Linked DNA regions of Homo sapiens: regions 1, 2, 4 and 5 are each linked to region 3. The links come from fine-mapping of genetic effects on gene expression. A gene starts in region 3. Each other region holds a variant in brackets. All regions are shown on one strand. Distances are between the middles of the regions. Region 1 overlaps EBP (EBP cholestenol delta-isomerase). Region 2 overlaps GLOD5 (glyoxalase domain containing 5). Region 3 holds the start of PCSK1N (proprotein convertase subtilisin/kexin type 1 inhibitor). Region 4 holds the start of FOXP3 (forkhead box P3). Region 5 has its middle 11 kb from the start of WDR45.

The links. PIP is the estimated chance that this variant, and not a neighbour inherited with it, causes the effect.
Region 1: its variant is fine-mapped to the expression of PCSK1N in esophagus mucosa (GTEx, PIP above 0.99). The same link has a PIP of 0.9 or more in lung.
Region 2: its variant is fine-mapped to the expression of PCSK1N in whole blood (TOPMed, PIP above 0.99).
Region 4: its variant is fine-mapped to the expression of PCSK1N in whole blood (TOPMed, PIP above 0.99). The same link has a PIP of 0.9 or more in lung.
Region 5: its variant is fine-mapped to the expression of PCSK1N in whole blood (TOPMed, PIP above 0.99).

The regions. Positions count from the first base shown.
Region 1 is chrX:48,522,829-48,527,921 of GRCh38, forward strand. EBP (EBP cholestenol delta-isomerase) reads left to right here. Exons shown (of 5, transcript NM_006579.3): 2 at 871-1,244; 3 at 4,161-4,197; 4 at 4,327-4,457. The coding sequence starts at 944. Among named protein-coding and RNA genes, the nearest start is that of EBP, 3.6 kb to the left of the region's middle. The variant T/C (reference allele first, on the strand shown) is at 2,363.
Region 2 is chrX:48,769,663-48,774,764 of GRCh38, forward strand. GLOD5 (glyoxalase domain containing 5) reads left to right here. Exons shown (of 4, transcript NM_001080489.3): 3 at 1,265-1,420; 4 at 3,648-3,986. The coding sequence ends at 3,773. Among named protein-coding and RNA genes, the nearest start is that of GLOD5, 10 kb to the left of the region's middle. The variant G/A (reference allele first, on the strand shown) is at 2,679.
Region 3 is chrX:48,833,101-48,838,202 of GRCh38, forward strand. PCSK1N (proprotein convertase subtilisin/kexin type 1 inhibitor) reads right to left here and starts at 2,510. Exons shown (of 3, transcript NM_013271.5): 1 at 2,319-2,510. The coding sequence starts at 2,432.
Region 4 is chrX:49,264,401-49,269,502 of GRCh38, forward strand. It overlaps FOXP3 (forkhead box P3), which reads right to left and starts at 310. Exons shown (of 12, transcript NM_014009.4): 1 at 261-310. FLICR (FOXP3 regulating long intergenic non-coding RNA) reads right to left here and starts at 2,075. Exons shown (of 2, transcript NR_147988.1): 1 at 2,048-2,075; 2 at 1,821-1,898. RefSeq lists enhancers at 4,482-4,981, 4,679-4,728. The variant G/A (reference allele first, on the strand shown) is at 2,859.
Region 5 is chrX:49,088,384-49,093,485 of GRCh38, forward strand. It overlaps a transcript of WDR45 not described here. Among named protein-coding and RNA genes, the nearest start is that of WDR45, 11 kb to the left of the region's middle. The variant G/A (reference allele first, on the strand shown) is at 2,966.

The DNA.
Region 1 (5,093 bases), 310 kb before region 3:
CACCTGGCTAATTTTTGTATTTTTAGTAGAGACGGGGTTTTGCCATGTTGGCCGGGCTGGTCTTGAACTCCTGAGCTCAAGTGGTCCACTCGTCTTGGCCTCCCAAAGTGCTGGGATTACAGGCGTGAGCCACCGCGCCCGGCCTTCTTTTTTAGAGGCAGAGTCTCAGACTGGAGGGCAGTGATGTGGTCACTGCTCACTTCAGCCTTGAAGTCCTGGGCTCAAAGCGATCCTCCTGCCTCAGCCTACCTACTAGCTGGGACTACAGGCCTTTGTCACCACACCTGACTGATTTTCTTATTTTTTTAGAGACAGTTTCGCTGTGTTGCCCAGGCCGGACTTGAATTCCTGGCCTCAGGTGCTGCTCCTGCATCAGCCTCCCAAAGCACTGGAATTACCTGCCACGGTGCCTGGCCTTTAGTCATGGTCTTAAAACAGAATGTAGGCCGGGCGCAGTGGCTCACGCCTGTAATCCCAGCACTTTGGGAGGCTGAGGCGGGCGGATCGTGAGGTCAGGAGATCAAGACCATCCTGGCTAACACGGTGAAACCCCGTCTCTACTAAAAATACAAAAAATTAGCTGGGCGTGGTGGCAGGCACCTGTAGTCCCAGCTACTCGGGAGGCTGAGGCAGGAGAATCGTTTGAACCCGGAAGGCAGAGGTTGCAGTGAGCCGAGGTCGCACCACTCCACTCCAGCCTGGGTGACAGAGCAAGACTCCGTCTGAAAAAAAAAAAAAAAAACGGAATGTAATTAGAAGTGTTACAATCCTGTCTGTTAACTGGTAAATTCGGTCCATTTACATTTCTCATGATAATAAACTATTTGAATTTGATTTTATTATCTCATTCTGTACTTTCTATTTGTCCAGGTTTTTCTGTTCCTTTTTTTTTTTTTTTTTTAACTTCCTGCCTATACACACGCAGCCATCAGCCCACAAAGACATGACTACCAACGCGGGCCCCTTGCACCCATACTGGCCTCAGCACCTAAGACTGGACAACTTTGTACCTAATGACCGCCCCACCTGGCATATACTGGCTGGCCTCTTCTCTGTCACAGGGGTCTTAGTCGTGACCACATGGCTGTTGTCAGGTCGTGCTGCGGTTGTCCCATTGGGGACTTGGCGGCGACTGTCCCTGTGCTGGTTTGCAGTGTGTGGGTTCATTCACCTGGTGATCGAGGGCTGGTTCGTTCTCTACTACGAAGACCTGCTTGGAGACCAAGCCTTCTTATCTCAACTCTGTGAGTCCTGATTTCTTTCATATGCTGTGGGATGGGATTTGCTGGGCAGGGATCGGCTTGCATGTTTACCTATCCACCTATTCTTCTTCCATTGATTTATTTTAAATTTTTATTTAATCTTTTAAAAAATTTATTATAGGCCGGGCACAGTGGCTCACGCTTGTAATCCCAGCACTTTGGGAGGCCGAGGCAGGTGGATCACTTGAGGTCAGGAATTTGAGACCAGCCTGGTCAACATGGCAAAACCCCATCTCTACTAAAAATACAAAAATTAGCCAGGCGCGGTGGCTCAAGCCTGTAATCCCAGCACTTTGGGAGGCCGAGGCAGGCAGATCACGAGGTCGGGAGTTGAAGACCAGCCAGGCCAAGATGATGAAACCCCATCTCTACTAAAAATACAAAAATTAGCCGGGTGTGGTGGCACACGCCTGTAATCCCAGCTACTAGGGAGGCTGAGGCAGGAGAATTGCTTGAACCTGGGAGGCGGAGGTTGCAGTGAGCCAAGACCATGCCATTGCACTCCAGCCTGGGCAACAGAGTGAGACTTTGTCTCAAAAAAAAAATTATTATGTATTGTTATTATTATTCTTTTTGTTTTTTGCCCTTCTCTAAAACTGGTAGATAACTTATTTTTGAGACAAGGTCTTGCTCTGTTGCCCAGGCTGGAGTGCAGTGGTATGATGATTGCTCACTGCAACCTCCAACTCCTGGGTTCAAGCGATCGTCTTGCCTCAGCCTCCCCAGTAGCTGGGACTATACTATAGGTGCACACCTTTATGCCTGGCTAATATTTTCACTTTTTTGTAGAGACAAGGTCTTGCTATGTTGCTCAGGCTGTTCTTTAACTCCTGGGCTCAAGCAATCCTTCCACCTCAGCCTCCCAAAATTCTGGGATGACAGGTGCGCACCACCGTGCCCAGCCTTATTTAACTTTTTTGTTGCATGTATATTCACGTGGGTCAAAAAACCATTTAAAGAGATTTGCAGTGAAAATCTGCTTTCTATCCACTAAGTTTCCCCAAACGCTGTTAGGCACTGTTGATAGTTGTTTATGTTTCTTTTCAGTTTATTTACACACGTAAGTCTCAATTTGCTCAATTGTAAAAGGAGGATAATAG[T/C]AATAACCAACTATATGTAAGATACTTAGAACAGTGTTTGGCAAACAGTGGTTGCCATGTAACTGTTCACTATTATTATCATTATTTGCACTTTTCCCTTTTTACACAAATGGTAATATGCTATATATACTTCTAATCTTTTCTCTTTTTCTTTCTTTCCTTACAAGAAAACCAAAGAAGCCATTTTCTTTTTTGAGACGGGGTCTCGCTCTGTCACCCAGGCTAGAGTGCAGTGGCATGATTATAGCTCACTGCAACCTTGAACTCCTGGGCAATCAAGCAATCCTCCTGCCTCAGCCTCCCTAGTAGCTGGGATTATAGGCATGTGCCACCCCACCAAGTTATTTTTTTTTTAACAACTTTTTTTTTTAAGAGATGGCGTCTTGCTTTGTTGCCCAGGCTGTTCTCCAACTCCTGGCTTCAAGTGATCTGCCCACCTCAGCCTCCCAAAGTGCTAGGATTACAAGCATGAGCCACCGCACCCAGCTGCTTTTTTTAATGAGGTCACTCCTCATGATTTCATAAAGAGCTTTCAAAGCATGGACATTGTACAGTTGCTTGACTTGTGTAGTATTGATGGGCATTTTCCCTCAATCTTCTGCCATTATAAACAAGGCCGGGCAGAGTGGCTCATGCCTGTAATCCCAGCACTTTGTGAGGCGAAGGCGGGCAGATCACCTGAGGTCAGGAGTTTGAGACCAGTCTGGCCAACATAGTGAAACCCCGTCTCTACTAAAAGTCTAAAAATTAGCTGGGCGTGGTGGCAGGTGCCTGTAATCCCAGCTACTCAGGAGGCTGAGGCAGGAGAATCTCTGGGACCTGGGAGGCGGAGGTTGTGGTGAGCTGAGATTGCGCCACTGCACACTCCAGCCTGAGCGATAAGAGCAAGGCTCCGTCTCAAAAAAAAAAAAAAAAAAAAAAAACATTACAGGCATGAGCCATTGTGCCCGGCTGGTCAGATGTTTCTTAAATTTTAGTCATTCCAGTAGATGTGAGTGATATCTCATTATGGTTTTAATTTGCTTTTCCTTAGTGACTAATGGAAGTTTGAACATCTTTCATATACTTATTGGCCATTTAGAAATCCTCTTTGTGAAGAACCTATTCAAGTCTTCTGCCTATTTTATATTGGATGATCTTTTTCTTTCTTTCTTTTTTTTTTTTTTTTTTGAGACAGGGTCTTACCCTGTTGTCCAGGCTGAGCACTGTGGTGCTATCATAGCTCACTGCAGCCTCAACCTCCTGGGCTCAAGACATCCTCCCACTGCAGCCTGGGACTGTAGGCACGTGCCACCACGTCCAGCTAATTTTTGTATGTTTTATAGAGTTGGGGGTCTCACTATATTGTTCAGACTGGTCTTGAACTCCTTTATGCAAGCCATCATCCCACCTCAGCCTCCCAAAGTGTTGGGATTACAGGCATGAGCCATCGTGCCCGGCGGTCTTTTTCTTTCTGATTCTCTGCTCACTCTTGTATTCACTCATCTGTTCACCTACATTCTCTCTCTCTCATTGGCTACTTCACTCACTCCATCATCTACACCTGCTTCCTTTTATACCACACACACTTCTTGAGTACCAATCACAGCCACACTGTTTTGTGTCAGGCTTTACACATATTACCTTGTTTTAGAGAAATAAACCACTAGAATCCAAACAGTTACCCCATTTCACGGATGAGGAAGCAGACGCATGGGAAGGTTATGAAGTCTGTCTTCTTGCAGGGACCCCCAGCTCTCACAAGTGTGTGTTCCTTTCACTGCCTTTATTCTTCATATCTCTCTCTTCTTTTCTTCAGGGAAAGAGTATGCCAAGGGAGACAGCCGATACATCCTGTAAGTGTTTGCCTCTGTCAATGGAGACTGGCATTGGTTTTCGGGGGGTGGTGAGTTGGGGAGCACTAATGGGCTAACCTGTAGGAAGAGCACACCGATACCAGTGTCCCCTCATGCTTTCTCCTGCAGGGGTGACAACTTCACAGTGTGCATGGAAACCATCACAGCTTGCCTGTGGGGACCACTCAGCCTGTGGGTGGTGATCGCCTTTCTCCGCCAGCATCCCCTCCGCTTCATTCTACAGCTTGTGGTCTCTGTGGGTAAGGAAAGGGCACTAGAGGGGCACTGGGCACTAGAGGGGTTGATGGGGGATCCACAGACACAGATGTATCCCTGTGGGTGGGATCTCTCAACGGTGCCCTTCCAGGGGTAAGTCAGACTGAATGACAAACCCCCTGAGGCTCTGGAAAGGTCATGCCCTTCTCTGAGCCTGCACTCTCAGGTGGGGAGGGTTCATTTTTCTTCCTCCTCCTCCTTCTCCATCACAAAGTCTCCTGTGAAGGTTACATGAGGTGGCCCAGGGTGGCAAGAAGCCCCTGGAACCTCCAGGATCAGGGCTCTGAGATCCCTTCATGTAAGATTCTGTCATATTTTTTTTAAAACAGGGTCTGGCTCTGTCACCCAGGCCAGAGTGCTATGGTGTGATCTCGGCTCACTGCAACCTCCACCTCCCAGACTCAAGCGATCTTCCTGCCTCAGTCTCCTGAGTAGCTGGGACTACAGGCATGTGCCACCGTGCCTGGCTAACTTTTGTATTTTTAGTAGAGATGGGGTTTCGCCATGTTGCCCAGGCTGGTCTCAAGCTCCTGAGCTCAAACAGTCCTCCTGGCTTGGCCTCCCGAAGTACTGGGATTACAGGTGTGAGCCACTGTGCCCGGCCTCAGTCATCTTGTGTT
Region 2 (5,102 bases), 63 kb before region 3:
ATAGCAGGGAGTTGCTAAATCAAGAAATAGTGGTGCAGCCGGGCACACTGGCTCACATCTGTAATCCCAGCACTTTGGGAGGCCGAGGCGGGGAACACTTGAGCCAGGAGTTCAAGACCAGCCTGGGCAACACGGGGAGACCCGGTCTCTACAAAAAATAAAAAAAAATTAGCCAGGCGTGGTGGGGTGTGCCTGTGGTCCCTGCTACTCAGAGGCTGAGGTTGCAGGATCACTTGAGTCTGGGAGGTTGAGGCTGCAGTGAGCCGTGATCACTGCACTGAAGGCTGGGCGACAGAGCAAGACTCTGTCTCAAAAAAAAAAAAAAAAAGACGCCAGGCACAGTGACTCACACCTGTAATCTCAGCACTTTGGGAGGCTGAGGTGGGCAGATCACCTTAGGTCAGGAGTTTGAGACCAGCCTGGCCAACATAGCAAAACCCCATCTCTACTAAAAATATAAAAATTAGCTGGGCATGGTGGCGTGTGCCTGTAGTCCCAGCTACTCCAGAGGCTGAGGCACGAGAATCACCTGAACCAGGGATGTGGAGGTTGCGGTAAGCCAAAATGGTGCCACTGCACTCCAGCCTGGGCAACAGAGCAAGACTCTGTCTCAAATAATAATAAATAAATAAATAAATAAACAAACAAACAGTGGTGCATCAGTTAGGGACTTTGGAGGCATGTAGGAGAAAACTCAACTAACTGTGGGTTAAACAAGACAAGAGTTTTCTTTTCGTTTCACTGAACAACCAGTCCAGAGGTAGTTAGTCAGGTCATGGGCAGTGGCTGGGAAGCAAGAGGAAGTGAATGAGCAATAAGGGCCAGCGCAGTAGGGTTGGGAGGTTCCCAGAAGCCCCATCCACACCTCTGCCCCCATCTCATTGCCTGGTCCAGCTAACGTGGCCTCCGGACGTGCTGGGAAATGTAGGTTTTTAAAGTTGGGTACACGGTTGACCCCACTGAAATTTCTGTTGTGTTTATAAGAAATAAAGGGGAAATGTATACTGGGTAGGCAAATTGCTATCTCTGCCTTGAGTGGTATAAACACTATTTGGAGATATGGAAATAATTTCAAGGAGAAATAAACTCGTACACTTGCCTCTAGGGAATGAGCCTTGGGTGGGGCAAAGGGCTGTTGTGTAGTAGCCCCATTCTAGTTTTTATTTTTTTTAAACCTTGTTGGGATAGGTGGAAAGGCTTCATCTCACACTCATCTTGGAGGTTTAATTCTAGGCTGTTTTCTCTGCCCCTCCCCACCAAGTAGGAAGACCGGAAAGCACTGTGTTTTGGAGACCAGAAATTTAACCTCCACGAGGTGGGAAAGGAATTTGAACCCAAAGCCGCTCACCCAGTTCCTGGCTCCCTGGACATATGTCTGATCACAGAGGTGCCTTTGGAGGAAATGATCCAGCACCTCAAGGTGAGTGGGACTTCTCTTCTTTTTGCAAAAGCTGCTGCAAACGCAGTGAAAACAGAAGAATGACCCAGAGAGGTAACAAGTTTTACCACAACCAGATAATGTCTGCACACAGTTATGTACTATTTTGACTGACAATTCTTTCATGTAAATAAATGTGTTTAAAAAGGAAACTGTGCGTTCCCATTGTAAAACAAACAAACAAACAAACAAACCTACATTTATGCACTGAAATACTTTTTTTTTTTTTTTTTGAGACAGAGTCTTGCTCTGTTACCCAGGCTGTAGTATAGTGGCTTGATCTCGGCTCACTGCAACCTCCACCTCCTGGGTTCAAGCGATTCTCCTGCCTCAGCCTCCCAAGTTGCTGGTACTACAGGTGCGTGCCACCACACCTGGCTAATTTTTGTAGTTTTAGTAGAGACAGGGTTTCACCACGTTGGCCAGGCTGGTCTCAAACTCCTGACCTCAAGTGCTCCGCCCACCTCGGCCTCCCAAAGTGCTGGCCATTACAGGCATGAGCCACGTGCCCAGCCCTAAATACATTTATATAAAAAGAAAACGTTCATCCAAGTACATGAAAAACCCATTATATCTTGGCATAAAGGAAAAGTAACTGTAAAAACCAACAGCTATGAAAGCATAACAATGTCATTAGATTCTAGCCACTTCCGTTCCCTGTACTCCCTGGCCCTGACATTACAAAGGGAGATATGGCAGGTGGTTAAAGAGATACTAAGAACTTGTTAGCATCCACCTTCTATGTGTAAAAAGAAGGACTGAAAGAAGATTGGAGAGGGAATAATTTCTGATTTGTTGTTATTTAATCCAGTGTCTCTGTAATACTTAAAATGATGTCATCTAGAAGAGGCATTGGTTGGGCACGGTCACTCACGCCTGTAATCCCAGCACTTTGGGAGGCTGAGGTGGCAGGATCATTTGGGCCAGGAGTTCCAGACCAGCCTGGGCAACATAGTGAGATCCCATCTCTTAAAAAAAATAAACAGAGTAGCCAGGCATGGTAGTGCATGCCCGTAATCCTAGCTATTCAAGAGGGTGAAGTGGGAGGATCACTTGAGCCCAGGAGGTGGAGGCTACAGTGAGCTATGATCACGCCACTGCACTCCAGCCTGGGTGATACAGCAAGACCCTGTCTCTAAAAAATTAAAATAAGGCTGGGGCACAGTGGCTCATGCCTGTAATCCCAGTGCTTTAGGAGGCCAAGGAGGGAGGATCACTTGAACCCAGGAATTTGAGACCA[G/A]CCTGGGTAACATGGCGAGACCCTGTGTCTACATAAAATACAAAAAAAAATTAGCCAGACGTGGCGGTGTGTGCCTGTAGTCTCAGCTACTTGGGAGGCTAAGAGGTGGGAGGATCGTTTGAGCCCAGGTTGAGGCTGTAGTGAGCTGTGATCGCACCACTCCATTCTAGTCAGTGTGACAGAGCAAGGCCCCATCTCTACAATAAATAAATAAAAGGGGTTTTAGTTTCCCTTTTGCAGAACACGGATTGAGGTCTTATATATATTCTGTGCAAATAACCTAGACTCCTTCTTTGGGAAGTGTCAGTGAAAAAGACTGGTTTGGAAGTAAAATGGGTGAAGCATAGGGGTTAAGAGTATGGTCGTTGACCCAGACTGCCTAGGTTCGAATTCTGGTTCTGCCATTTACTAGATAATACTAGGTACTATTATCCTTCCCATTTTACAGATGAGGAGATCGAGGTACAGGGTAGTTAGGTACTGTGCCCAAGGCCATCTAGCTGATAAGTGGCTGGAACGGAGTGATGGAGGGGAGGATGGTAGGAGATGAGGTCAGAAAGATACAGCGGTGTTCTAAGGTCTTCTAGGCCACTATAAGGAATTAAATTTTACAGGCCAGGCGCAGTGGTTCATGCCTATAATTCCAGCACTTTAGGAGGCTGAGGCGGGCGGATCACTTGAGGTCAGGAGTTCGAGACCAGCCTGGGCAGCACAGCAAGACCTCGTCTCTATGAAAAATAGCTGGGCATGGTGGCATGCGCCTGTAATCCCAGCTACTCAGGAGGCTGAGGTGGGAGAATTGCTTGAGCCTAGGAGGCAGCGGAGGTTGCAGTGAGCTGAGATCTCACCACTGCACTCCAGCCTGGGTGACGGAGCGAGACTCTGTCACAAAAAAAAAAAAAAGGCATTAAATTTTGGTCTCACACACACATTTTGACGAACGACTTTTGTCTTTTCTTCCCACTTCAGGCTTGTGATGTCCCTATTGAGGAGGGGCCAGTCCCCAGAACAGGGGCAAAAGGGCCTATCATGTCCATCTACTTCCGAGACCCCGACAGAAATCTGATTGAGGTGTCCAACTACATCTCCTCGTGATGGAGGCTGGACCTCCTCCATTCTGTCCCCCTTGATGTCGCCCTCTCCTTTCCTTCCTGCAAACCCCCACCCAGGCCCAGAGATCTCCAAAGACTGAGGACTTAGGCACTTCACACATCCTGCTGAGGGGGGACCCAAGACAGGTTTGGGACCAAACCTACATGTCTGTATGTCATCAAAGTTGGCCTAATAAATGCATAACCTCTCAATGAATACGGGGTCTTCGTTACTGTATTGGCGCCATGCATGGGTGTTTATGTAGGGTGTGAGATCTCTGAGCTGTTCGGTCGGAGGCCTATGACCAGGGTATGACGCCTCTGAGCACCGAATCTAGGGTCATCACCTCGGGATTCAAGGCCCCTGACAGATTTCTCCTTGTCAGTGATGCCATTGTCTTCATCCTTTCCTAACTTTTCTCACTCCTCCAGCTGCTGCCTGCTGTTTTCTCCATTCCTGGGCCTCGCAGAATCCCAGGATCTCTTATTCCCATCAGACCTTCCAGGACCAGCACCAGGTGATACTACCTCTTTCAGGAGAGCCTTCTCTAGTCTCACTCTCAGGGTATTTAGCACTTTCTACCTTTGGATCTAGTAGATCAAAGAATTCGAGACCAGCCTGGGCAACATAGTGAGACCACCCACCTCCACAAAATAAATAAAGAAATAAGCCAAATCATCTCAATTGAAGCATAGCTTGTGGCAGGTTAGGTGGGACAAGGTCAGATTTCCTGTTTCTGCCCCCCCTCCACCATTCAGTCAACTAAAATACATATGTTAACCACCTGTGTGCCAGGCCCTGTTCCAGGCACTGGAGAGACAGCATTGAGCAAAGGAGATAAGCATACCCCTGTTGGTGGAGTTGCCATTCTAGTGGGAGAGAAAGAAAATAAATAAAACTAAGTAGGTAAAATATTAAGTATGTTACAGGTTGGTAAATGGTTTGGAGAAAAAGAAAACACGGAAAAGAGGGAATGCAGATAAAAACTGTTGGGGCAGGTTGGACACAGTGGCTCACGCCTGTAATCCCAGCACTTTGGGAGGCCGAGGTAGGTGGATCACTGAGGTCAGGAGTTTGAGACCAGCCTGGCCAACATGGCAAAACCCCGTGTCTACTAAAAATACAAAAATTAGCTGGCTGTGGTGGCGCATGCCTGTAGTCCCAGCTACTTGGGAGGCTGAGGCACCAGAATTGCTTGAACCTGGAGGCAGAGGTTGCAGTGAGCTGAGATTGCACCACTGCACTCCTTCCTGGGTGACAGAGCGAGACTCTGACTTGAAAAAAAAAATTGCTAGGACAGCTTCTGATGTCTAATGAGGCGGTCCCGGAAAG
Region 3 (5,102 bases):
CGTGTAGTGGTTCATGCCTGTAATCCCAGCACTTTGGGAGGCCAAGGCAGGAAGATCGCTTGAGGCCAGGAGTTTGAGACCAGCCTGGTCAAAATGGCGAGACCCTGTCTCTACAAAAAATAAAACCAAAAAAAATGAGCGGGGCACAAGCCCATAGTCCCAGCTACTTGGGAAGATGAGGTGGGAGGATCACCTGAGTCCAGAAGCTCAAGGTTGCAGTGAGCCCAGATCGCACCACTGCACTCCAGCGTGCATGACAGAGGAAGACCCTGTCTCTAACAAACATAAAATAAAATTAAAAACCTCATTAGTAATCAGGGGAAAGCAAATTAAAATGCCAGGGAGATACTATGCATAATATAACCAAAAGATTGACCCAAATCAAAAAGTCTGATAATATGAAGTGTTGATATGAATGCAGAAAAATGGGAACTCTCATACTATGCTGGTGAGAATTAAACTGGCAAAGTAATTTTGCAGAGCGGTTTGACAATATCTAAAAAGATGCACATATCCTATGACCCACTCCTGGGATGTCACTCCCCAGAGCAGCTTTGGCACATACGCTACTGGTCACAAGTTCGTGAAAGATGACAGCAGCACTGTTCGTAATAGCATAAAAGGGCGGGGGAGAAAGAAAAGCCTGGAAACAGTCCAATGTCCACTGACAAATTGAGAATACATATATAAATCATGATGTCCTCATAGGATGTAATATTATGCAGCAATAAAAATAAATGAATTACAGCCACATGCATCAACTTGGATGAATCTCGTGACCAGAATAGAGCCAAGGGAAAAAAAAACGTCAAGTTCCAGAATTTCACTGCAGACTGCCTGAGACTACTAGACACCCTGAGGACTTCCTAGTGACCCCTAGTGACTACGAGGAACCAGTCACCCAGTATGATTCCGTTTCAATGATGTTCAAAAGCAGGAAAAACTAAACAATGGATTTTTTTTGAGAGCTACACATATGTGATAAGCTACAAACAAAAGTAAGGGATCAATGGACAGAAAATACAGAATAAGGACTGTGTGGGGACAGGGGCTGCCATGGCGAGGGGCACGCAGGGGCTTCTAACTCTTGGTCAGGCTCTATTTATTAAGCTGAGTGACTGCTACACGAGAGAGTTATTTTGTCATCATTCTTTACATTGTACATATATATTAAACACATTGTTACACGGATATAAGGTAACAGTTTTTTTTAATTCCCATCTTTGATGCAGACAGTATTGAAGAGCTAGAGGAGGATGCCTCTCCAAGTGCCCTTGCTGGCGCCCACCACTCCTCAGTCACCCCGGGGTATCACACTCACCAGCAATCACAGCCTCACACACACTCATGAGGACTGACAGGCCTGGAGATGTCACATATACAGCCCAACACTGCCACAGCCACATGCAAGGACCTGCACACGTTCACATCCGCAGCTGCTCCTGCAGTTACAATCGCCAAGCCACCCAGGTGCAAGGACATGCACCATCCTTAAAGACACAATGCAGCAGAGAGACATCATGGCTCCTCTCCTCAGGATGACACAGCTCCACAAAGAAACGGAGAGAAACAGTCTCAGGAACACGCAAACGAAATCCCAGGCACTTGGTCCAACAGAACCACTATGGAATGTGCACACGGAGATGCGAAGACCATTCCCTCTCAAACACAAACGAAATCACACACACACACACACACACACACACACACACACACACACAGAGAGAGAGAGACAGAGAGAGAGAGAGAGAGACACGCCCATAGGCCAAGCCAACACACATAATAAGGATTCACAAATATCCACACGGTGTCACTGAGAAAACAATCGGACGCACAAAAGAATCGCGCACAGAAGTATCCCGGTATCACACACACTACACACCCAGACGCACCACGGCACCTTTCTAGGACACTTGGAAGCGCTCAAACCAAAGAACACACACTTTCAAGGACACGACACCTCCACACCGCTCTCCTCACATCACACGCACACACACTGATGCGCGCGCGCCCTTTCTTAAAGCGCCTTAGTGCCGTGGACAGCGTCACAGGCACCGGGCACGGAGAGGTGGGCAGGGCACGGTTACCGGCGGCGCCCCGGACAACGCCACCCGCACAGGCAGAGACCAAGTCAGGTCTCAGGTGTGCCGGCGTGGCCTGGGCGCGGACCGGCGGCCGGAGCCCGGGCCACCCTCGTCGATCTCTCCGCACGTCCCGGGAGCCGGCTCGGGCGGGGGTGAGGCGGCGCAGCCCCAACCCCAACCCTCGCCGGTGGCATCCTCCCCCAACCCCCACCCCTCGCCGGACTGGGGTCGCACCTTTACCGGCCGCGCGCAGAGCGCGGGGGGCGGCCGAAACAGGCCGAGCAGCAGCAGCACCAAAAGGCCGACGCCCCCGGCCCGCGGCCCCCAGAGCAGCGGCGACCCCGCCATGCTGCCCCAGCGAGCCGGGCTCCGGACGGGCGGACTGGCTGGCAAGTGCGCAGTGCCGGGGCGAGCTGGCGAGGCTGCGGCGCTCTGCGGCTGCGCACGCCCGGAACCAGGCCCCCCCCCCCCCGCCCCCACCCCACCCACCCGACCGACGCAGGCGCAGCCTGGGGAGCTGGCAGCCCCACCAGACCTCCCGTCGCCATGGAGATGCCCAAAGGGCAAGGTGGAGAGCTGGCGGTTGCCATGGCAGTCGGAGGGCAGTTGCTGGGGCAACCGACCTTACTGTTACCTTAGTAGACAGGAAAACAGGCAAGAAAAATTGACTCAGTGGAGTGGAATGGGGGTCTGGTCCTCATCTCTCTTCCTGGGGGAGGAGATGGACTTTAGTTTGTTCATTAGATAAATAGTTAATGGATCACCCGCAGTGGGCCCGGCCCGCGCCAGGGAGATGGGTTCAATCTAGGTGATGTGACCATGGACAGCTCAGTTGGCCATTCTAAGGCTCAGGCTCTCAGCGGCGTAAAGGGGTTACTACTGACAGCCTCCCTCAAAGTGACCTTGGAGGTTTAGAATGACATTCAGTAGGAGCTCCATAAATGCTCCTTTCCATCCTCTCCTTGTCTCTTTGTGTTTTTTTTTTTCTGACAGTGTCTCGCTGTGTCCTCCAGGCTGGAGGACAGTGGCCGGATCTCAGCTCACTGCAATCTCCACCTCCAGGGTTCAACCAATTCTCATGCCTCAGCCTGCCAAGTAGCTGGGACTACAGGTGCCCACCACCACGCCTGGCTAATTTTTGTATTTTTGTAGAGATGGGGTTTCGTCATGTTGCCAGGTTGGTCTCCAACTTCTGAGCTCAAGCAATCGGCCCTCCTCGGCCTCCCAAAGTGCTGGGATTACAGGCGTTGAGCCACCATGCCTGGCCCCAGCCCAATACTTTCATCTCTCCATGGCTCTCTGTGTTTATCTTTCTGCCCTTATGTGCCCACAGCTCTCTCTGTGTCTTCCTCTCCCCATATGTCTCTCCTTGTCTATGACTTTCTCTCCTTTCATCTCTCCAACCGCTGTCTTGTCTCTGTCTTTATTTTACTGTCTATATCTACTTGTTTTCCATAGATAGATATATACATAGATACATATATGCATAGACTTTACCCATATATTGTTCCAGAAATAAGTTCAAGCCACTAAAATGACATATCAAAGGAAACAAGATCTTGAAAAAATGTATGTGTATCCATAGGGGGAAAAATGTTGGGGAGGAAATGTCATCAATGGTTATCTCTGGGGAGGTAACTAATGGTTTGTTACTTTCTCCTTTATACTTTTCTGTTGTCTGAAAAAAAAAAATTACAATAGGCCAGGCGCGGTGGCTCATGCTCGTAATCCCAGCACTTTGGGAGGCCGAAGTGGGTGTATCACCTGAGGTCAGGAGTTTGAGACCAGCCTGGCCAACATGGTGAAACCCCATCTCTACTGAAAATACAAAAATTAGCCAGGCATGGTGACACGCGCCTGTAATCTCAGCTACTCAGGAGGCTGAGGAGGAGGAGAACTGCTTGAACCTGAGAGGCAGAGGTTGCAGTGAGCTGAGATGGTGCCACTGCATTCCAGCCTGGGCGACAGAGCAAGACTCCGTCTCAAAAACAAAAAAAGATCATCTGAATAAATGAAGACACAATACATGTTCCTGGATGAGGCAATTTCATTTTATAAAGATGTCAAGTCTATCCAAACTAATATATAATTTCTATGTAATTTCAATTTAAACCCCAGCTGAATATTTTAAAGAAAATCAATTAAATGTACTTTTTATTTTGTTTTATTTTTAATCCTACTCCTTCTGTAATAAAATGTGTAATAAAATTTGTTTTGGTTTGTTTATTTGTGTTTTGAGACAGGGTCTCACTCTGTCACCCAGGCTGGAATGCAGTGGTGAAATCACGGCTCACTGCAACCTCCACTTCCCAGGCTCAAGCAATCCTCCCACCTCAGCCTTCCGACTTGCTGGGACTACAGGTGTTCCCCACCATGCCCAGCTAATTTTTGCATTTTTCTGTAGAGATGGGTTTCACCATGTTGCCCAGGCTGCTCTTGAACTCCTGGGTTCAAGTGATCCACCCACCTTGGCCTCCCAAAGTGCTGGGATTACAGGCATGAGCCACCACACCTGGCCATATTTTTAAATGTATATAAGAGTCCATGCAAAAATTTGTACACAAATGTTCAAAGCAGCATTATTTATAATAGCAAAAAGTGGAAACAACCCAAATGTTCATCAATAGATGAACAGATAAGTAAAATGAGGTTTCTCCATATCATTGAATATTATTCAGCCATAAAAAGGAATGAAGTGAGGCCGGGTGTGGTGCTGTAATCCCAGCACTTTGGGAGGCCGAGGCAGGCGGATTACTTGAGGCCAGAAGTTCGAGACCAGCCTAGCCAACATGGCGAAACTCCATCTCTACTAAAAATATAAAAATTAGCAGGGCGTGGTGGTGCATGCCTGTAATCTCAGCTACTCAGGAGAATCGCTGGAACCTGGGAGGTATGGGTTGCAGTGAGCAGAGATCGCACCACTGCACTCCTGAGCAACAGGGAGAGACTCCGTCTCAAAAAAAAAAAATCTCATGTATCCCATAAATATACACACCATGTACTTATAAAAATTAAAGA
Region 4 (5,102 bases), 430 kb after region 3:
CATATTTTAAAAATCCTATCCATCTACGTATCAATTGATGAATTCATTTATTTTTGCCCCTGCCCATGCATTAAGTACTTCACCTTTAAGTCTTCTGCCATTTATTCTATTATTTTTTTAAAGACCTTACCTGGCTGGAATCACGGTAGCTGGGTACATCCCACTGTACCAGAGGGCCCCTGACCCCCCCGCCGTGCCTACCTCCCTGCCATCTCCTCCAATGGGGCCCACATCTGGTAGGGGAGAGCAGGGACACTCACCTTGGTGAAGTGGACTGACAGAAAAGGATCAGCCTGGCTTGTGGGAAACTGTCACGTATCAAAAACAACTTTGCTTTTATACCGAGAAGAAAAACCACGCTGTACGGTGTGGAAGCCGCAGACCTCTCTCTTCTAATAATCCAAATTTTTTTCGATGAGTGTGTGCGCTGATAATCACGGGGTGGGGAGGGGTTCTCATAGTTTTTTTTTTCTCTCTCTCTGTGTTTCTCCTTTTCTTGATTATGAGACTTAAACGGAAATTTTGAAATTTTGGGTTTTTTTCTTTGCCCTTTACGAGTCATCTGAAAATATGATTTCTTCCCCTCACCACAGAGGTGAGAGGTATCAATGAGATAATAGGGCTCATGAGAAACCACAGTTTTTAAAACAAAAGTGTATAGAGTTTGAAAAAAAAAAAACAAGGGAAAAGAACTAAAATAAATCACAGGGCCAACCCGAGGCAGGCAGAGACACCATTCTGTGAGTGAGAGGATATTTGAGGGTCTCTGGGGAAAGAAAGAGAATCTGAAGCTCTATGTGTGGATGGGAAATGCCAGGGAAAGAGACAGAATAGGGCTGGGTTCCCAGAGGCCTCGCCCTACTCCAGGCCTCAGTTTCCCTATAGATGGAATTGATATGGTCCCCATTGCTTGAACTACCCGGCGAGGGGAGTTCTGCACCCCCTGCAACACCCCTCCCACAGAGGGTGAGGGGCATGTAAGTTACTTCATGGAGGAGAAAGCGGAGAGCCCACTGTCATCCCCTAAAATTCATGGACTTGAAGAGTCGGAGAATCCCTGGCTCCCAGAATCTACTGACAGTTACTGAATGAGGAAAGAGAGAAAAGTCTCGCCTCATCACGTTTTAGGGCTTGAGTGCCCTGACCCAGCCACTGTCCCACTGGGAAGGTCCCTAGCAGGTCCCCAATATTAATGCATCCATCCTCACGATGAACCCCAGAGGCCCATTGGGACCCTGACCCTCTTGTTTCAGGAACATCATGGCCTGATGCTTCTGAGGCCCTCAGCCTTTGGGGTCTTTTACTTCAAAAAGCCCCAGTTTCCAAGGATTTAGGATTCCAAATATCCGCCATCATCTCAGTAGCTGATGTTTATCTTGAATTTTCCATGGGTCAGATACAGTGCTGAACATGTCTCACAAGTGATCATGTTCAATCCTCACCATGGCCCCTTGAGCTCCATCTCATCATTATTGTATTCCTGTTATACAGATGAGGGAAACGGAGGTATAAGTAGTCAAGCAACTTGCCCAAGATCACAGAGCTGGCGAGTGTGGGTCCCGCTTTCTTTGGTGCTGGGCTTTGAAATCCCCAAGCTTTCCTGAACTTGATGTTCTCAGGTTTTAAATTCTAGGATGTGATGGCAGGGAGATCCTGGGATTTGGAGAGTCCTTGGAGACTTGAAGCTTGTGAGGCTTTTAGGTTGTCCAGGAATTGGCGGCTGCATCTCTTGACCTCAGCAGGCACTCTATTCAACCACTGGTCAGCATGGTAGACCAGCCCCCAGGGGCTTCTCCTGACAGGCCATGGTGAAGACTTCCAGCTCCCAGCACCCTGCAAAGCCCAGGGTTCTAGTCGTCCAACAACCACTCCAGCCCTCTACAAGACTGGCTTCAGACCTGGGGAAGAGAAATTGGAAAGGGCTTTTTATTTACATGGTACAAATCTGGTGGCCAAGATCCACCCCTTCACCCCTTTGCCCCCTTTCCTCCCCCAACCTTCTAAGCCCTCGTAAAAAGGAGGGCCTCTTTCCTCAACTCAGACTCACCCTTCTGGAAAAGCCCAGAATGGGCCTGATGGCCTGGCTTTGTGAAGACAAGAAAAAAAAAAAAAAAGAATAGAAAAAAAAAGACCTTAAAAAAATCAGCCAACAACAATTAAAAAAAAAAAAAAACACCCAACCCTCCCCACCATTAGTTCAAAACAAAACTTTCGCTGGTTGAGGCTTCTGAGTTGGTGGGACACATCTGAGACCCAAAAATGGCTTGGGTGTGTTGGACAGCCAGGGGAGGCACCAAGGTGGGATGAGGTCCCCTGCTTGGAGGCCTGCAGGGACCCTGTGAACAGCAGGTGTTTAACAGATGTCACGGCATGTGGGAGGGAGCAAGGGAGGGGGTGAGGAGCATGCATGTCAGGAAGGAGTCCTGGGGAGCTGATTCTAGTGATGGCCCCAAGGTTAATGACCCCTTGCAGTGATGGTCCTAAGGTTAATGATCCCTTGCACTGATGTTCCCATAGTTAATAACCCCTTGCTCCCTGCAGACTTGGGTCGGAATGTTCCCTACACCTCCTGCGTAATTATAAACCAGGCCAGTTCTATCAGCAGAGGCATTGTTCCCTGCCCCAGCACCTGTCCCCCTCCTGGAAAAGGGGGCTAGTTTTCTCTCTCAGGATCAGAGGTGTGGGCTGCATTCTCCTTATACCTTCCCCAGACCATCTGTCCCTTACTGTCACTCACTCCATGAAAGAGAGTGGCCAGAGATATAGGAGGCAAACGAAGTGAGGATGGTGGCCGAGAATGTGAGCTGGCCCCTTGGGCAGGCCCAGGGTGTGAGAGGGAAATGCTACGGCTGCTGAAA[G/A]CCAAGATCCTTGCAGAATGGGGGCTGGGGTCAGGAGGGCAGAGAGGGGTAGAGGTCGCTACCTCCCCTCTATACTGGACTATATCCTCTCTCATGGAGGGCTTCTCGGGAAGGAGACTGGGAGGGCTGGGAGTTGGGGGTGAGTAGGCAAGATTAAACGGGTCAGGAAAAGTCCCCAGAGACAGGGGCCTCTGACAAAGACTTGAAGGAGATGAGGGAGGGAGCCAGCTAGATATCTGAGGAACTCCAAAGGAAACAGCCAGGGCAAAGGTCCTGAGGTGGGAATGTACCTGATTTGTTCAAGGTCTACAAGGGGGCTGGTGTGGTTAGTGTGGAGAGAGCAAGAAGAGAAGCTGGAGGTGAGGTCAGAAAGGGGACTCGGAGGTTAGACCACGCAGGACCTTGTAGGCCATGGTAAGGACTTTGGCTTCAACGCTGAGTGAGGAGGAAGGCATGACAGGGTTGCAAGCAGAGGAGAAACACAAACCGTGTTAGGATTTAACAGGAAGCCCCTGAATGCTGAGTGTACAATGGGGTCTAGGGCCTGAATGTGGAAGCAGGGGACCAGCAAGGAGCTGGCTACTGCAGTAGTCTAGGTGACTGGTGATAGTGCTGGCAGTGGAGGTGGTGAGAAGAGGATGGATTTGGTAAATATTTTTAATAGACAGCCAAAAGGATTTGTTGAAGACTGAGAGTCTTGGAGCCAGATCGGGACAGACAATGCCCAAACCAGGTGGGCAGGAAGGAGTCCCTGGACTATTTGCCAGCTTGAACTTTTAGGTGAGAAAAAAATAAAGTTCTGTCTTGCTTAAGCCCCCATTATTTTATGATTTTTCTGTTACTTGCAGCTGAACATATTCATTTCTAACTCATGGACATCCTGAACATGGAGACCTGGGGAGAGGGGCTGCTGGAAGGATCACCTCCCTCCTAGGATGCTGTGAGGTTCTAATGAGATAACAGCATGCTCAGAACCTGGCACTCAGTAGGTGTTCAGTAAATCTTCCCAGGATGGAGAAGGAATGTATGAATGGATGTGTTCAGCGGACAAAAGCTGCAGTTGAGTTCCCACAGAAGGTGAGACCCCAAAGGGAGAGCGAAAGGAGTTTACTAGATGGAAGCAGCAGAAGGAACAGCACTCTTGGGAGAGGGAACAGTAGAAGCAGAGATGGGGGGACAGAAAGAAGGGAGGTGAGGCCCCTGTGGGGTGTGGAGTGTCAGGTTGGGCAAGAAGGACAGGGCTTTGATTGTGATTCCATTAGTCAGAAGCTACCCATATGCCCAATCAACTTCTGGTAGCACACAGTCAGGTCAGTGTTTGCTGAGCTGAAATTTAAAAAAGTGAATCCTTCAGAAAGTTAAATTTCCTATTCGGCCATTCATTCAACAATAGTATCAAGTCCTGGAGAGTGCTTGCGGCTAACAATCAGGGGCATTCTTGGCTTGTGGCACTGCTCAAGAAAAGGTTGTAGTTGGGCAGGGAGGACCCAGTAAGTAACTAACTGCAACAGGACAGTCATTTTCACTTTCCTAGTTCACACACCAAGGTGTGGTCTAGGCCTTCAGGGGCTCTGGGTATTCCTGGGGCAATGGGGAGTCACGGAGGGTTAGGGAGAGGGTAACCCCATCCCTGAGAAGCACATTTTTCCTAATGGCTGCCTGCGTTCTATGGTTCTGCTGTCCGGCCACCCAATACCTCAGACTCTGTCTACACAGCGTCCTCCTCTCCAGCCTCCTTATTGGCTACTCATGCCTCCCTTCACACCACCTACACTGCCCCCGTCGGCTCTGCTTTTTTCCCCATCTTGCCTCCAAGTCCTCCCTCCGTCCCGCTGCACTATCTAGCCTCGGCATTGGCTCATCCCATACTAGTACTGTCCTTTGAGGTCTCTACGCCTTCACCCTGGCTCCCTCATTGGCTATCCGCCAGCTCTCGTCCTCGCTCCCGCCTTCAGCCTCCACCTCCATTGGCTCGGCTCCCTACACACCCGCCTCTTGGTCTCCTTTTAGCCTTCGTATTGGCTAGCTCCACCTTGGCACCACCCCTTCGAAGCCGCAGTGCACGCTCACAAGCCTCCCCATTGGCTCGCTGCAGCCATTGTCGTCATCCCACGCGTGGCTCTCCATTGGCTGTTCTCTCTCTCTAGCTACCGTTCCACCGCCTACGCAACCCGCGGGATCTCCCACTTTTTGGGCCTCTGCGTTCGTTCCCGGCTGCCCTCATCGCCTGTAGCCATTCCACTT
Region 5 (5,102 bases), 260 kb after region 3:
GCAACAAGAGCAAAACTCCGTCTCAACAACAACAACAACGAAGAGAACCAAGAAGGCCTTAAGCTCTTATTTGTGGGGGACCTTCAGGCTTTGGGCAAGGAAAAAGTGAAGGCTAAGGCACAGTTGTGAACTACCTGAGGGAGTGTTCTAGGTATTCTCCAACATACATGGACACACATTAGGCAAATGCTGGAAGAAGTAATGGTTCAAGGCATTTAAGGGAACCTTTGCCTAACCGTTATCTGGTCAGTAAGCTAATGAAGCAGGGCCTTCAGTGGCCACACACAACAAAGAATACACACTTTATAGAATTAGTTCAGAAAAGTTGCTAAACAGGCTCATAGTAGCTCATGCCTTTGGGAGGCTGACATGGGAAGATGGCTTGAACCCAGGAGTTTGAGGTGCAGTAAGCTATGATCATGCACTACAATCCAGCCTAGACAACAAGAGGGAGACCTTATCTCAGAAACAAACAAACAAACAAAAAGAAGTCACTAAACAGCAGTGATAATAAAAACAAACAGCAGCCACAACAAACCCTGGGAAGGAGACAATCTGAATTTCAGAGTTGCCACATTATTTAAAATGTCCAGATTAAAAAATGCAAAGAAACTAGAAAGTAGGCCAGACACAGTGGCTCACGCTTGTAATCTCAGCACTTTGGGAGGCCAAGGTGGGTGGATCACCTGAGGTCAGGAGTTCGAGACCAGCCTGGCCAACATGGTGAAACTCTGTCTCTACTAAAAATACAAAAATTAGCTGGGCGTGGTGGCGCACGCCTGTAATCCCAGCTACTCAAGAGGCTGAGGTGGCAGAATCACTTGAACTCAGGAGGCGGAAGCTGCAGTGAGGCAAGATCATGCCACTGCACTCCAGCCTGGGTGACAGAGGGAGGCTCCATCTCAAAAAATAAATAAACTAGAAAGCATAGCCCATACACAGGAAAGAAAAAAAGAAGAAAAAAACCGGTAAATAAAAACTTCCACTGAGGAAGCTCAGATGTTGGAATTACTAGACAAAGTTTTTTTTGAGACAGAGTCTCACTCTGTTACCCAGGCTGGAGTGCAGTGGTGTGATCTCAGCTCACTACAACCTCAGCCTCCTGGGTTCAAGCGATTCTTGTGCCTCTGCCTCCTACGTAGCTGGAATTACAGGCATGTGCCACCACGCCCCACTAATTATTGTATTTTTAGTACACACAGAGTTTCGCCATGTTGGCCAGGCAATATAGTGAGACCCCATCTCTACAAAAAAGTAGCTGGCCATGGTGGTGCATGCCTGTAGTCCCACCTACTCAGGAGGCTATGGCAGGAAGATCGCTTGAGCCTAGGAGGTGGAGGTTGCAATGAGCTGAGATCGGGCCACTGCATTCCAGCCTGGGTGACAGAGCAAAACCTTATCTCAAAAAAAAAAAAAAAAAGAAAAGAAGAGAAAAAAAGAAGTACTGTACTTATACGTGTGGTACAACATGGATGAACCTTGAAAATATTATGCTATATGAAATAAGCCAGACACAATAGGCCACATATTTTTATGATTAATTTATATGAAAAACCAAGATAGGCAACTTCATAGAGACAGAAAATACATTCGTGGTTTTTAGGAGCTAAAGGCTAGGGGATGGGTGGAATAGTGACTGGTAATGGCTATGGGGTTTCCTTTAGAGGTAATGAAATAAAGGAATAAAGGTTTTTTTTTTTGAGACAGGAGTCTGACTCTGTCCAGCCTGGAGTGCAGTGGTGTGAACTTGGCTCACTGCAACCTCTGCCTCCCAGGTTCAAGCGATTCACCTGCCTCAGCCTTCCGAGTAACTGGGATTACAGGCGCCTGCCACCGCGCCCGGCTATATTATGTATTTCTAGTAGAAACGGGATTTCATCATGTTGGCCAGGCTGGTCCGGAACTCCTGACCTCAGGTGATCCACCCGGCTGTGCCTCCCAAAGTGTTGGGAATACAGACATGGCCACCACACCCGGCCCAAAATAAAGCTTCTTGAATTAGATAGTGTTGATGTCTGCACAATCTTGTGAATGTACTAAAAACCACTGAATTGCACACTTTGAAGAGGTTGGTTCTATGATATGTACATCTTACCTTACAACTATAAGAAAAGGAATGACCTATTGAAACATGGAACAAACCTGGTGAATCTCCAATAATTTTTTTTTTTGAGATGGAGTTTTTTGCTCTTGTCACCCAGGCTGGAGCAATGGCACGATCTCAGCTCACTGCAACCTCCGCCTCCTGGGTTCAAGCAATTCTCCTGCCTCAGCCTCCCAAGTGGCTGGGACTACAGGCACCCGCCACCATGCCCAGCTAATTTTTATATTTTTAACATGGGCAGAGTTTCACCACATTGGCTAGGCTGGTGTTGAACTCCTGACCTCAGGTGATTCACCTGCTTCGGCCTCTCAAAGTGCTGGGATTACAGGTGTGAGCCACCGTAATCCAGGCCTTTTTTTTTTTTGAGACGGAGTCTCGCTCTGTCACCCACACTGAAGTGCGGTGGCGCGATCTCGGCTCACTGCAACCTCTGCCTCCCAGGTTCACGCCATTCTCCTGCCGCAGCCTCCCAAGTGGCGCCCGCCACCATGCCCAGCTAACTTTTTTTTGTATTTTTAGTAGAGGCGGGGTTTCACCGTGTTAGCCAGGATAGCCTCAATCTCCTGACCTCGTGATCCGCCCGCCTCGGCCTCCCAAAGTGCTGGGGTTATAGGTGTGAGCCACTGCGCCCGGCTTCCAATAACTTTTATAGAGTGAAAGAACTTAGAGAGAGCTAGTCTTGGTGGCTCATGCTTGTAATTCCAGCACTTTGGGAGGCTGAGGCGGGTGGATCACTTGAGCTCAGGAGTTCAAGACCAGCCTGGCCAACATGGCAAAACCCCATCTCTACCAAAAATACAAAAATTAGCTGGGCGTGATGGTGCACGTCTGTAATCCCAGCTACTTCAGAGGCTGAGGCAA[G/A]AGAATCACTTGAAACCGGGAGGTGGAGGTTGCAGTGAGCCGAGATCGCACCACTGCACTCCAGCCTGGGCGACAGAGCGAGACTCCGTCTCAAAAATAAAGAAAAGAAAGAAGGAATTGGCCGGGCGCGGTGGCTCACGCCTGTAATCCCAGCACTTTGGGAGGCCGAGGCGGGTGGATCATGAGGTCAGGAGATCGAGACCATCCTGGCTAACAAGGTGAAACCCCGTCTCTACTAAAAATACAAAAAATTAGCCGGGCGCGGTGGCGGGCGCCTGTAGTCCCAGCTACTCGGGAGGCTGAGGCAGGAGAATGGCGTGAACCCGGGAAGCGGAGCTTGCAGTGAGCCGAGGTTGCGCCACTGCAGTCCGCAGTCCGACCTGGGCGACAGAGCGAGACTCCGTCTCAAAAAAAAAAAAAAAAAAAAAAAAAAAAAAGAAGGAATTTAGAAGAGTTCATACTAAGATGCACTTATATAAAACTCTTAAAAAGGCAAAATATGCCAGGCGCGGTGGCTCACGCCTGTAATCCCAGCACTTTGGGAGGCTGAGGCGGGTGGATCACGAGGTCAGTAGATCGAGACCATCCTGGCTAACACGGTGAAACCCCGTCTCTACAAAAAATTAGCCAGGCGTGGTGGCACTTGCCTGTAGTCCCAGCTACTCGGGAGGCTGAGGCAGGAGAATCGCTTGAACCCGGGAGGCGGAGGTTGCAGTGAGCGAGACCACGCCATTGCACTCCAGCCTGGGCAACAGAGCAACACTCCATCTCAAAAAAAAAAAAAAAAAAAAAAAGGCAAAATATAACAAAGTATATTTTGTACACTTTGTTATATTTTGTATACTTTGTTATATTTTGTATGCTATAGTAACAAAGCAGATCCGTGGTTGCTTGGGGATGAGGTGGGGCAGTTAGGAAGGGAATTACAAAGGGGCATGAGGAAACTTGGAGATGATGATATGTCCACTATCTTGATTATGGTGATGGTTTCATGAGTGTATGCATATGTTATTTTTTTTCAAAACAAATACCTAACACTTCTGTTTCTTGGACCAATTTTTTTTTTAACTTGCCCTGCCCCCACCACCTGCTTGGACCAAAATATAATACCTATTTATGTCCTAAAAAAATAGTAGCAGTTTAGAAAATCGACAACACATAGATAGAAAAAAAAATTGTTAAATAACTACAATTGCTTATTAATGGATGCATGTTTGTTAGACTCTGCACACCTTCCCAAACCTTAATCAGATTGTCTGATATCACCTAAATCACTTTATCCATGCTGATTTTTGTCAGGTGTTTGCTTTTTATCACAGAAACTGCTGTAAACCCAGCTTTGCAAAAAGATGTCATTGAAAGAAAAGTAGTTCAATGTAACTTTGAAACTTTGAACTCCCTTGAATAGTTTATGAGGTATCTGACATGTTGAGTACCCATATATTTCCCTCAAACAATTTAAAGCATCTTACAGCGTCCCTGAGAATTCACTATGGCACTCTGAGGTGCCTCAACACAGTTTGGGAACTGCAATCCTAACTCACGCAGGTCTGTGTTTCCTCATTCTGTTTCTTTTCACTTAGTATTATGGTTTTTTTGTTTTGTTTTTTAGAGGGAGTCTCTGTCACCCAGGCTGGAGTGCAGTGGCGCCATCTCGGCTCACTGCAACCTCCGCCTCCTGGGTTCAAGCCATTCTCCTGCCTCAGCCTCCCAAGTAGCTGGGATTACAGGTGCCCACCACCATGCCTGGCTAATTTTTGTATTAGAGACGGGGTTTCACCATGTTGGCCAGGATGGTCTCGATCTGACCTCGGCCTCCCAAAGTGCTGGGATTACAGGTGTGAGCCACTGTGCCTGGCCAGTATTATGTTTTTAAGCTGGATACTTTGTTTTCTTTTAATAGAGATGGGGTCTTGAGGTCTCACTATGTTGCCCAGGCTATATTTTTTTTGAGACGGAACTTTGCTCTTGTCACCCAGGCTGGAGTGCAATGGCACGACCTCAGCTCACTGCAACCTCCACCTCCTGGGTTCAAGCAATTCTCTTCCCTGGGATTACAGGCTTGAGCCGCTGAGCCCGGCCAGCCCAGGCTAATCTTGAACCACTGGGCTCAAGTAATCTTCCTGTCTCAGTCTTC